3 separate regions of the Homo sapiens genome follow, and all the other regions are linked to region 1. The links come from fine-mapping of genetic effects on gene expression. A gene starts in region 1. Each other region holds a variant in brackets. All regions are shown on one strand. Distances are from middle to middle.

Evidence for each region.
Region 2: its variant is fine-mapped to the expression of ZNF197 in whole blood (INTERVAL, PIP 0.96).
Region 3: its variant is fine-mapped to the expression of ZNF197 in whole blood (TOPMed, PIP 0.97).

What each region holds. Positions count from the first base shown.
Region 1 is chr3:44,622,886-44,627,125 of GRCh38, reverse strand. ZNF197 (zinc finger protein 197) reads right to left here and starts at 2,090. Exons shown (of 6, transcript NM_006991.5): 1 at 1,983-2,090. The region is part of intron 2 of ZNF660-ZNF197 (ZNF660-ZNF197 readthrough); the gene reads right to left. All of the region lies in intron 2 of ZKSCAN7-AS1 (ZKSCAN7 ZNF cluster antisense RNA 1), which reads left to right. ZNF197-AS1 (ZNF197 antisense RNA 1) reads left to right here and starts at 2,329. Exons shown (of 2, transcript NR_046658.1): 1 at 2,329-2,404. RefSeq lists an enhancer at 1,255-1,757 and a silencer at 1,737-2,086.
Region 2 is chr3:44,422,902-44,427,141 of GRCh38, reverse strand. It overlaps the pseudogene C3orf86P. Among named protein-coding and RNA genes, the nearest start is that of LINC01988, 2.9 kb to the left of the region's middle. RefSeq lists an enhancer at 2,159-2,298. The variant C/A (reference allele first, on the strand shown) is at 1,659.
Region 3 is chr3:44,530,941-44,535,180 of GRCh38, reverse strand. No RefSeq gene overlaps it. Among named protein-coding and RNA genes, the nearest start is that of ZKSCAN7, 22 kb to the left of the region's middle. RefSeq lists silencers at 2,010-2,304, 2,196-2,324. The variant C/T (reference allele first, on the strand shown) is at 2,154.

The DNA.
Region 1 (4,240 bases):
TGCATATGTGTGTACATATATTGTTTTCTAGTTCCCTTTTTTTCACAAATGGTAGGACACCATGAATGACGTGGTACATTTTCCTCTTCTCAATAATATGTCTTAGAGATCTTTCCTGTCAATACACAGCCCCTCTCCGCATTTTTATGGATGCATAGATGTATCATAATTTATTCATGCCAGCACTGATGGAATGTTTGGGTAGTTTTCAATCATTTCTTATTACCAACAATATAATCATGAATAATCTTGGGCATACATCAGTTTGGATGTGTGTAGGCATATATAAGAAAAATTCCTTGAATCAGAATTGCTGAGTTAAAAGGTATATACATGTATAATTTTGATATTGCCAATTTGACCTCACTAGGATTGAACCAATTTATAATTTATACTCCCATCAGAAACAGCTGTATGGGAGTGCCTTTCCTCACTTTCACCAATATGTTTCTCAAAGTTTGTGCTCTTCGCCAAATTTTTGACTTGCATTTTGAACGAATTAATATAGAGTCATTTGTATATTTTTTAAAGTAACTATTCATATATTTTGCCCATGTTTCCATTGAGGTGTTGGGTCTTGTTAATTTGTACACACTTTTATCACAGGAAAATTAGTCCTTTGTTTACAATGGCAGCTGCAAATTTTTCTCAGTTTGTCAAGTGTCTTTGTGACTATATATGCCATGTGACTTTGCTTAAAGTGTTTTTTGCCATGCAGTCAATCTTTTACGACTTCTGGGTACTGTACCACAATTAGAAAGACCTTTTTCACTCTGAGCATGAAGAGAGTCTTAAGTGGTGTCAGGACTCTATTAGTGAGAAATGGTGGGGGTGGGAGGGCTGGATATCAAGAAAGGTCAGTTAGGTTTTTCTAATAGTCTAAACACATGACTTAAGTTCTAAACGAAGTAGGGATAAGGCAATTGAGAAAAACTTGGTAGTCCTTGGTAACTGATCTGGGGGTGATGGAAAGGAATTTTTAAAAAGAATTTTGAATAATTTTCAAATAACATAAAAATAACAAATTCTTAAACATACATTTTATTAGCTTCTCACAAAAGGTTTTCAAAGCAGAAGTTAAAAAAAACAAAAGGATCAGAGGAGCGAATCCACTCAAGGCCACTTAGCTAACTGAGACATGGGAGCAAATTCTGAATTCAGGGATTCTAATTCCAGAAGTCCAAAACAATTCCATCTACGAAGAAACTTATGAAACCCAAACAACCCAAACTGTTCTAAAACAACAGTTTCCAAACACCAGTCCACGACAAAGCTTTAATCTGGTAAGCTGCAAAAAGAGAAAACCAGTAACAATCGTCGCTGACAGGTTGGCAATGAGTGTGTGTGTGTGTGTGTGTGTGTGTGTGTGTGTGTGCGCGCGCGCGCGCAAAGGCCAGCATTTATTCTGAGTTTACGGTCTTAGTACTTTGTGTTAAAATGTATTGCCTGAAGTAATGTTGGTATGGGTGGTTTCAAGTTTGAGTTTTTCAAGTTTGATTTTTAAATACCATTATATTACAAAACTAAAAGACTAAAAAAGCTAAAATCGTTCCACCCCTTAAAACAAACAAACAAAAAAATCCGTCCTCAAGAGTCTGGGCGCCACCGGTAATAGGGAAACCTCAGAATGTTTCTGTGGATTAGCCTCAGACAAGACTGAGGAAGAGCAGAAAGGCCTGAGCTGGGGGAGCAGGCTACTGAGGCAGCTCTTCTCAAAGCGCCAGCAGAGTCCGTTAGACAGGAGCACCGGTCCACAAACACACACAGACTCGGAGCTGCTGTCCTCAGTACTTCCCTCGGGCCGGCTGCCTGCCCAGCCGAGGCCACGACGTCGAACCCCAACACGAAGCTGGCGACGGACCATGCCGGGGGTCAGGGCCCGGGAGAGGCTACCGAGGGCTGTGCAGTCCCAGCAAGCTCAGGCCCGCGTCCCGGGCCGCCTTCCCTGCACGCCCACCCGCCCCCGAGCCCACCCCGCTCACCGGGGGCTCCCGCTGCGGCTCCAGCCTTGCGTACCGCCGCCTCGGCGCCAGGCCGCTAGGAGATGACACAGGAACGAGCCCTTCCGGCAGCCGAGGCACAGAATAATGGCCGAGCCGAGAATACTGCGACTTCCGGTTGCACCCCGCCCCTCATCCCGGATCTCTAGGAAGCCACATCTCTATGGTTCGTTTCTTTTCCCAGAACTGGGGAAGAGAGGCGGAACTCCTGAGCCCTTGGGTACTAGTGTTCCTTACATCGAACAAGAACTGGCCGCTGTTTCAGACCGGAAGGGTGCAGAGATGAAAGACAGGACCCAGGGTCTCAGGATGCCTGTTGCCTCCTAAGAGAGTTGGACATTTCTATTTTGATTTGCATTTCAATTGAGGTTGATAGGGAGTGACCTTCACGTCTGAATGACCTGGTAGGTGACTTTTCTGGTCTCTTCTTGAACTTATGCAATTCTCACTATAAATAATAACATGACTTATAAATCACCCTCTTGTGAATTCGCTTACTGTGGTGTATCTCTTGCCCACATGATGACATATTGGAGCTATGATATTAAATAATAATCAAGTTGATGGTGCAAGGTAATGTGCAAATGGTAGGGACATCTCTCCCCTGAAAGAAGAGGTTATTCTAGCTGTCCATCGCCCTGGGTAAAGTCAGGTGTATATAAAGGAAACTGGCACTCTGATCCTCTCTTTGGTCTTCAGTCTCTTAAGTTTGGACTTCTGGAACTGACACCCCTATATGGGACTATGGCTGAAACAAGTCTCCAAAAGGGCAAAGGCCATGTCTGCATGGATCCCATGTATTTAGCACCTAGTACAAAGCTGAAGCCATATAGGTTGTAGATGAATGTTTATTCAATGAGCAAGGTTCATGTTATTCTGTTTATGTCTTTTTTTTTTTTTTGAGATGGAGTTTTGCTCTTGTTGCCCAGGCTGGAGTGCAGTGGCGCAATCTTGGCTCACTGCAATCTCCACCTCCCGGGTTCAAGCGATTCTTCTGCCTCAGCCTCCTGAGCAGCTGGGATTACAGGCACGTGCCACCATGCCTGGCTATTTTTTTTTTTTTTTTTTTTTTTTAGTAGAGACGGGGTTTCACAATGTTGGCCAGGCTGGTCTTGAACTCCTGACCTCAGGTGATCCACCCCCACCTTGGCCTTCTAAAGTGTTGGAATCACAGGCGTGAGCCACCGTGCCAGGCTTATTCTGTTTATTTCTTTATGTTCTCTCCTGGCATTCATTAAACAACATACTTAAACTTCAGCCTTGATTCATTCATTCATTCAACTACTGAGTACTTGCCATATGCCAAATACTGTTCTGGGCACTAGGGACATAGATAAAGAGGTAAAGTCTCTGTTCTCATGGGGCTTACATTTCTAGTGGGATAAACAGAAAACAAATATAAAAATGTGTCAGGTGGTGGTAAATGCTAAGAAATGTGAAAGCTGATCATAAGAATTGGGTCATTTTTGTCATACCTAATAAAAGAAAGTCGAGAAATTAGCTGGGGGAAGCACTCAGGGTACACAACATTGCTCCAGGAATGTTATTCTCTGTAAGCTTGACTGCTGAAACTGCTTATTATAAGCCAAAACCAGTTTTATCTATAGCTTCTGAGATAAGTTGCTGCAACTCTAGGACTAATTTTGCCCACCGCAGTTGCTCACCAACTGGAGCTTGTCAGCTCCCCACACCCTTACTACTGCCAATGAACTTTCTCAAAGAGCAATATGTAACATTCCTCCTTTTTGTAAAACCTCTAACCTTCTCTTTGTTCTTCAGAGAGAGCACCACTTTCAGTTCAAGCCAGAGACTATCTCTCCGAGTTTGTAAACTGATGTTGTGAATAAAACTTTCTTTTCTTTCTTTCTTTCTTTTTTTTTTTTTTTTTTTTGAGATGGAGTCTCACTCTGTCGCCCAGGCTGGAGTGCAGTGGCGCGATCTCGCTCACTGCAACCTCCGCCTCCCGGGTTCAAATGATTCTCCTGTCTCAGATTCCTGAGTAGCTGGGATTACAAGCGCACGCCACCATGCCTGGCTAATTTTTTGTATTTTAGTAGAGATGGGGTTTCACCGTGTTGCCCAGGCTGGTCTCAAACTCCTGAGCTCAGGCAATCCACCCGCCTCGGCCTTCCAAAGTGCTAGGATTACAGGTGTGAGCCACTGTGCCGGCCAACTTTCTTTTCTACTATCTAGCCATCCTGGTGGTCCTTTGGATGACATAAAAAAGGGTAAGGAGGACC
Region 2 (4,240 bases), 200 kb after region 1:
TAAAAATACAAAAAATTAGCTGGGCATGGTGGCACACACCTGTAATCCCAGCTACTCGGGAGGCTGAGACAGGAGAATCGCTTGAACCTGAGAGGTGGAGGTTGCTGTGAGCCGAGATTGTGCCACTGCACTCCAGCCTGGGGACAGAGTGAGGCTCCATCTCAAAAATAAATAAATAAATAAAATTAATGTAGGAAATTTAGGAAGTTTGAATTATAAGAAATCTAATTTTGGTCTGGAATAAGCCAAAATATTGTACTAACATTTTTTAAAAAAATAAACTAATAAGGAGTGAATCATGCTAACATTTTCCTTTATTTTGAAGTTGGCGTCTTTTCTTTTGTCATAGCTAGTTTAAAAGGTTATCAGGGAAATACATTTTCTAGTGTCCATAAAAAATAGTTCAATAACTTTTTTCTTTAGACAATTTAGACTTTACCTGAACTAAAAATTCCTAGAATATATGCATAACGGCTGAATGTAATTTTTGTTAAGTCTTTCATTTTGTTAAGTTTTCAAAAGAGGGAAAAGGAGAGGAAATGGGATAGAAAAAAAATGAGAGGGAGCTGGCTTTAGACAAATAACTAATCATTTTTCTCTGTAAGAAGAGGGATGAAAGTTTAGACATATATACAATACACACACGAGAGTGTCCTATATCTGGTTTTGACATAATTTCAGTTTGTGACAATTCTATCAAGCCATACAATTTTTTAAAAGCCAGAATGTATTAATCTCCAACTTATGGAAAGGAAGGAAGTGATGCCTCCCTGTGAAACAAAATGATCTGTCATTTAGGCAAACAAGACAAAGATTTTCCTCATGAGGGGTCTTTTATTCTTGATATCCAGAGTCTCCTTAAAATGTTTAGCCAAGCCCAGGTGCAGTGGCTCATGCCTGTAATCCCAGCACTTTGGGAGGCCAAGGCCGGTGGATCATGAGGTCAGAAGATCAAGACCATCCTGGGTAACATGGTAAAGCCCTGTCTTAGCTAAAAATACAAAAAAAATTAGCCGGGCATGGTGGCGGGCGCATGTAACCCCAGCTACTTGGGAGGCTGAGGCAGGAGAATGGTGTGAACCCGGGGAGGCAGAGCTTGCAGTGAGCTGAGATCACGCCACTGCACTCCAGCCTGGGTGACAGAGCGAGACTCCATCTCAAAAAAAAAAAAATGTTTAGCCAAATATTGATGTTTATGCAATAGAGTGATTTGCCAGCCAACATTTTTGTTTACCCAACATAGTGACAGTTTTGGACCTGAAGCCTTTCACAAAATGTGGCAAGGGCATTGGAAATGTCAACATTTTAAAGATGCTTGGTCGGGCACGGTGGCTCATGCCTGTAATCCTAGCACTTTGGGAGGCTGAGGTGGGTGGATCACTTGAAGTCAGAAGTTTGAGACCAGCCTAGCCAACATCGTGAAACTCCATCTCTACTAAAAATACAAAAATTAGTTGGGCGTGGTAGCACAGGCCTGTAATCCCAGCTACTCAGGAGGCTGAGGCGGGAGAATCACTTGAACCTGGGAGAAGGAGTTTGCAGTGAGCTGAGATGGTGCCATTGCACTCCAGCCTGGGCAACAGAGTGAGACTCCATCTCAAAAAAAAAAAAAAGAAAAGAAAAAAGAAAAAAAAGATGCACATGAGGGAAAAGATGCT[C/A]CTATTTCATATTAGTTATAGCTAAAGAATATTTTAGAGAAGCATTTTTTGAGTCCAAATTGTGTTTAGGAGCCTCCTCATACCAATTAAAGACAGCAGACCATTGGATATTCAGAATTTTGCTTTGTTTTTGTTTTGTATATATCAGAGTTTCCCCAAAGTGATCACTATAATTCTAAATTATCTTTGGGGAAATTGTACCAGTTAGAAAGCTATGCACATGAAGGGAGCCGGTGTTTGGCCTGAAAGAGGCTGAGTTTTCGATAGAAAAGACTCCATGGGAACTTCAGCGTGTCCACAGGGTGGTACTTGTGTGACACTGCGTCTTGGAGCCAGCCAAAGACTAACCAGCATTCAGGGTTGTCCAAGGCTTGGAAGACAAAGCCCTCAAAGCACACTGATCAAGAGCTGGACGCCATGGTGGGGGCAATAAGCTCTTAAGCTTGCCAATATTCACAGCAAGGGGGTTTCCAAGATCAGCTGGGGGAAGGTAATGGAATGAGTTAGAGTTTCCTGGGGAAACTGCCCCTGTGTGGACCGAGGTGGAGAGGCCCTGGGGAGGAAGGGAGGAAGCACACCTGGCCTCACCAAGCACACTGCCAGAGCAGGTGAGCTGAGCCAGGGAGGGAAGAGGGGACAGAGGCTTCTCCTTCACCTTAGCAATGGCCTCATGCTACGGACAGGCCTGCAGCAGTCTCTGGGAAGGCCCAAGGCTACTAGCACCAATGGGGAAAGGCTGCTGGGCAAGCCCCTGGGGGCTGGGAAGGGATTCATTTCTCACTAAGCTCCAGCAGCCCTGTGGACTGCCCCACATCGGGTGGGCACCATCAGGCAGGTGAGGAGAGGAGAAAAGCCTGCTTGGGTGACCTGGGGCCAGCCCAGGAGGACGACTGTTCCATCTTCTGCCAGCACCATGGGCTGGCTCCATGGGACACACAGCAGCCGCTGGGTCCATAGAGTGGGGAACGTGGTGAGGATTCAAGGTGGGCCTGGGCTGGGCAGTCCCAGTAAGCAGCTGGTGACATGGGGAGCTGCATCTAATTCTCAGGGAGACCAGGGTGTGAAGAGGGTGTGAGGCCCAGCAAGCCAGACCCAGGGGAGTAGGGAGGGGATCACAAGATGTTCCTGATCCAGGTAGCCCTGGCTACCATTATACTGAGCACAAACCAACCTTGTCAGAGGACATTGCCCCTTGTTTATAAATTTGGGTTCTAGAAAAAAACCCCGATGCTGTTTTTTGGAGCCATGTGATGGGACTGCTGGAAACCAGGCAGGGAAAGGCAATGGCAGGCACACTTCCAGTTTTGGGGCATCAGGCACTGTGACAGCGAGGATGGTGCAGGGGTGAGTGGGGAGCTGCCCTGCAGGGGTCTGAGATCACCAGGCAGAAGCTAGGCTGGGATAGGGCGGGAAACGCATTACACAACAAAGATTAGATTGCAGGGGCCCCAGCCTTCTAATGCCCCTCCTGCTCTCTGAAGCTCCCTCCACAGACTCCTCCACCCCAGAACCTTCCGACAGGTAAGCTTCAAACCCTTCATACCTATCCAGTTCCCTAGCTCCTGGCCAGCCTCTAACTGTTCAGCCCCCGAACCCCCTGTTTCCACCCACCCTGAACCAGGGGATCTCTGCAGGTTGTGCTGACTCCCCCATGGCCTTGTGGCCACCAGGGGATGCTGGGGAAATCCTCTCCACCTGAGCAAATCAGAACTTCCTGTAGGACACAGGTGTCAGGATCAGCTTCTGGTTGAGCTGGTTGATATTCTAGGTAGCGCACCTTGAAGTTTCTCAGGATTGACAGTCATTGTGTCTGTTCTAAAGAAGGTGAAGGAATTTGATGGAAAGAAAGTAGGAAGAGTCGCCCAGACTTGCAGGCTGCCTCCTGTACTTATTCTGAGAACGTGTTCACATGGCATAGGCGTTTCCTTTTGTGGCCATTTGTAAGAATGGGAAATGAATGACTTTTTTTTTTTTTTTTTGAGACGGAGTCTCACTCTGTCACCCAGGCTGGAGTGCAGTGGCGTGATCTCGCCTCACTGCCAGCTCCGCCTCCCAGGTTCACGCCATTCTGCTGCCTCAGCCTCCCAAGTAACTGGGACTACAGGCCCCCGCCACCAAGCCAGGCTAATTTTTTTGTTTTTTTTTTAGTAGAGACAGGTTTCACCGTGTTAGTCAGGATGGTCTCAATCTCCTGACCTCATGATCCACCCGCCTTGGCCTCCCAAAGTGCTGGGATTACAGGTGTGAGCCACTGCGCCTGACCAGGAAATGACTTATTCTTACAAATGACCACAGGTGTGGCTGCTTGATACAACACCCATTTATTTATTATTTATTTATTAATTTATTTAGAGACAAGGTCTCCCTCTGACATCCAGGCTGGATGGAGCGTAGTGGTACAATCTCAGCTCACTGCAGCCTTGACCACCCCAGGCTCAAGCGATTCTCCCACCTCAGCCTCCTGAGTAGCTAGGACCACAGGTGGATGCCACCACACCTAGCTAATTTATTTGTATTCTTCTTCTTATTATTATTATTATTTGTAGAGATGAGTTCTCCCTGTGTTGCCCAAGCTGGTCTGG
Region 3 (4,240 bases), 92 kb after region 1:
AGTCATCCTGCTCCAGTGCCTGGAGGGCACTGCAGAATCACTGGTGCTGCTGTTAAATCTAGTGCAGATGACAAGTTATGAGAAAGTGTATTTATGTTGCCTTATCTGTTACAGTGATTGTTTGGGGAAACCAGCCCCACACCACCTGCTACCCTGAGTCCAGCGGAGACAAAGGAGTTAGAAAGAGACAGAATAAGCGTTTAAAAAGCAGGTCCAGGGGACCTGAGCATCGGAGGCTTGCTCACAGCCCAGGCTCTGCCTGATTTATTGGTTTACAAGCTCTTTGTTCTTAGGGCAGATGGGAGGGGTAGGAAGGGATGAGGAAAAGGATTAATCAGTGAAGGAGAACTCATGAGTCATTCAATAATATGTGTAGCTGTGGTGGTTTCTGTGAATTTCCTTGAGCAAAGGCATGTGTCTAAACTACTTAAGATCTTTAACTTATCGGGACTGAAATGGGTGGGAGTGGCTTTCAGGAGGGGCCAAGATGTTTGATTATACTCCACTGCTTCAAGGGAGTGTTACCTCCTTGAGCAACTGTGGAATTCTGCTGAGTGGTTATGCTGTCGGGGCATAAAGACATGAAGGCAATAAGAAGACTTTTCTCCTCAGAGGCCGCCCATGGCTCCCCTTGGGTGTCTCACACAGGGAAGACCAACTCAGCTGGCACCGCAGAAACTCTCTTTCCCACAGTGATCAGTATAGCTGCCCAAAAGATACTGTGGATGGAAGGGCCAGCTGCCACATACCCTCCTGATGGAAGTACCGAGTACATTGGCCTGAGACTGGAGTCCTCTCCAATAGCCCACTGTCCAGCCCCTGGCCTTACCAACGCTCAGGACAGATTAGAAATGGACCGTAAGTCAACAGCACCCTCCTTTCCTCAACTTGCCACTTGGGTGGGCATTAGCTCATCCAGAGAATTTGATTTGGCAGATACCATGCTTCTTTTATATCATTTCTTTGCCACCTAATTTGTACTTATGATTGTAGAAATATAAGAAAATATAAAGAAGTAAAAGAAGAAAATAAAAAGAAATTATATTTCAAAGATAACCAGTTAAGCTTTGGTCTTTTTTAAATAGACATTTAAATTAAGGAGTAGTGCTAAAAAAAATACATAGAAGCACATACTTTTTTTCCTTACAAAACCAGATGGTGGGAGAAATGAAGCTCTGCAGGGCATTAGGTCAGATCTTCCTTTCACTTTATTGTAGAGTAGCCTCCACTGCAGGGAGAGAATTCAGCCTGGCACGTCACCTCATGCTATCCAGTGAACCCTGCCCCTCACAGAACACAATTCTGGTCACTCTGGGTGACAGAAGGGGACTTGTAGTCAGTTTCAGCTGCAGAAGGGGTTACTAGCCATGTATAGAACTTTTTTAATTCCAAGAAGTTATGATTTTTAGAATAACTCTAAACAGGCTGGGCGTGGTGGCTCACACTTGTAATCCCAGCATTTTGGGAGGTCAAGGTTGGCAGATCACCTGAGGTCAGGCATTTGAGACCAGCCTGGCCAACATGGTGTAACCTCGTCTCTACTGAAAGTACAAAAATTAGCTGGGCGTGGAGGTGCAGGCTTATAATCCCAGCTACTTGGGAGGCCGAGGCAGGAGAATCACTTGAACCTGGGAGGTGGAGATTGCAGTGAGCTGAGATCATGCCACTGCACTCCAGCCTGGGTGACAGAGCAACACTCCGTCTAAAAAAAAAAAAAAGAATAAACCTAAATATAATCCTAATGTTATACACCTTCCTGTCACCTTCCATCTTGGTGTGCACTTAACACCCCTGAACAGGTTTGACCAGCTCCTTAGAACCATAGTAAAAGACTTTACAATTTGAGAAGGGAACATGAAGAAAAATTTAATCTCATTTATCAAAGTAATACATATTAATCCTGAAAAAATAATTCAGAAATACAGAGGGTAAAAGCAGTCATTCTACTTTTGCATTTAAAAAGTTCTTTGTTGTTTTGGGTTTCCCTAGTATGTTTCTAAGGGGTGTGGGTTGGCTTCACACTCGTCTCTTTCTTTTTGTAGACCCATTTGCCTTATATATTTTAAAGCTGTGCTGATAGGTTCAGGGTGCATGTAAGTTTATGACAAATCATTCAATAGTTACGGAACGGTTGCTGTACACCAGGCACTGTC[C/T]AGGGTCCTGAAAAGAGTCAAGAACAGGATAGAACAGGCTAGAAGCGCCATCTAGTGGATGGTACTTGTTTTATACAAAATTTAGCCGGGTGTGGTGGCGCACGCCTGTAATCCCAGCTACTTGGGAGGCTGAGGCAGGAGAATTGCTTGAACGCTGAAGGCGGAGGTTGCAGTGAGCCGAGATCGCACCACTGCACTCCAGCCAGGGCGACAGAGCAAGACTCCGTCTCAAAAAAACAAAAAAGAAATAAATTGGACTATTTGAAGGAGAATCCTTAGTGTTCCCCCCTACCCCCATTTGCTCTCGCTGTCTCTGAGACAGGGTCTCACTCTGTCGCCCAGGCTGGAGTGAAGTGGTGTGATCATAGCTCACTGCATCCTTGACCTCCTGGGCTCAAGCTGTCTTCCCTCCTCAGCTTTCTGAGTAGCTGGGACTATAGGTGTGTGTCACCACGTCCAGCTGATTTTTATATTGTTTTTTTGTAGAGACAGGGGTCTCACTATGTTGCCCAGGCTGGTCTCAAACTTCTGGCCTCAAGTAATCCTCCTGCCTCAGCCTCCCAAAGTGCTGGGATTACAGGCACGAGCCACCGTGCCCAGCCTCTCAGTTCTCTGTTTTCATCATAATTCAACATTTCACAGATTAGTGTTAGTAGTCTATGTCATAAGAAGTTTATTTATAAAGGTAACAAATAGGTTGAAAGATAATTACAGTAATTCTTATGCTCCTATATTAACAAGTATTGAAAAACTTCACCCTCCTTTCTTAGGGGGTGCCATTTAAACTAACAGATGAATTTTAAAGGACTGCTATACCCCTGAAGGTGTGAGAAAGGAGCATTCTATGCAGTGGGAAAAGTTGCTGCAAAGGCTCAAGATGTAACTGATTGGGCTGATCAGGTGACAGAAGGGAGGCCACTGTGCCTGGATGAGAGTCACAGTGTCAGAGGTGCAGTCAGAGTTGGGCAGAGGCCTGCCTGCGGAAGACCATGTTGGCCAGGTTAACCAATTTGAAGTTGCTTGGGGGAGATTAATTTCAGTGTCAGGAGGCCAGTTAGAGCACCATTGCAGGACTACATTTGAGAGAAGATGGTGGCCAGGACTAGGGATGATGTGCTGTGGAGATGGAAAGAAATGGGTGGATTTACAATGCATTTTGGAAGAAGAATAAACTGGACTTGCTGATGTTTTAGATGTGAGAGGGTGGAGAATTAAGAGCAACTTCTAGACTGGGCGTGGTGGTTCATGCCTGTAATCCCAGCACTTTGGGAGGCTGAGGCAGATGGATCACTTGAGGTCAGGAGTTTGAGACCAGCCTGGCCAACATGGTGAAACCTTGTCTCTACTAAAAATACAAAATTAGCCAGGCATGGTGGTGTATGCCTGTAATCCCAGTTACTTGGGAGGCTGAGACAGGAGAATCGCTTGAACTCAGGAGGCAGAGGAGGTTGCAGTGAGCCGAGATTGTGCCATTGCACTCTAGCCTGGGCAACAAGAGGGAAACTCCATCTCAAAAAAAAAGAAAAAAAGAGTAACTTCTAGGTTTCCTGACTTGGACATTGTTCGACAACTTAGGGATTGATTATTGGTTTTTTATCAATATGAAATATTCCATTCTATGCCCATTAAATGCTTAGCCTTAGAGTCTGTTTTGTCTCATATTAATAATTCTACACAGCTTTTTCTCTTGTTGTTAGAACTTGCTTGGTGTACCCTTTTTCCTTCCTTTCTTTTCAACCTTTTCTATTGTTTGGTTTTATTGTAGGTAAATCTCTTGTAAAAAGTCTCCTCCCTTCTCTGTCTCCCTCCTTCCTTTTAATGAGGAAACATAACATGTTTGTATACATTGTGATTAAGGATAGACTTGGACTTTGTAACACTATATTAGTGTCTTTTATGGCCCATGCTTTCTCTCCTATATTCCTCCTTGTCTGCTCTTTGGTGCAGTAAAAATTGAGTGGAAAAACCAGAAACAGGGAGACTTAGAAGGCTTACACCCGTAGGCACACTGGGTCTTTCTAGAGTCACCTTCATCTTTTCTGGGCCCACCTCACATGCAGAGCTTTCTGGTTTAAGACACAGCGAGA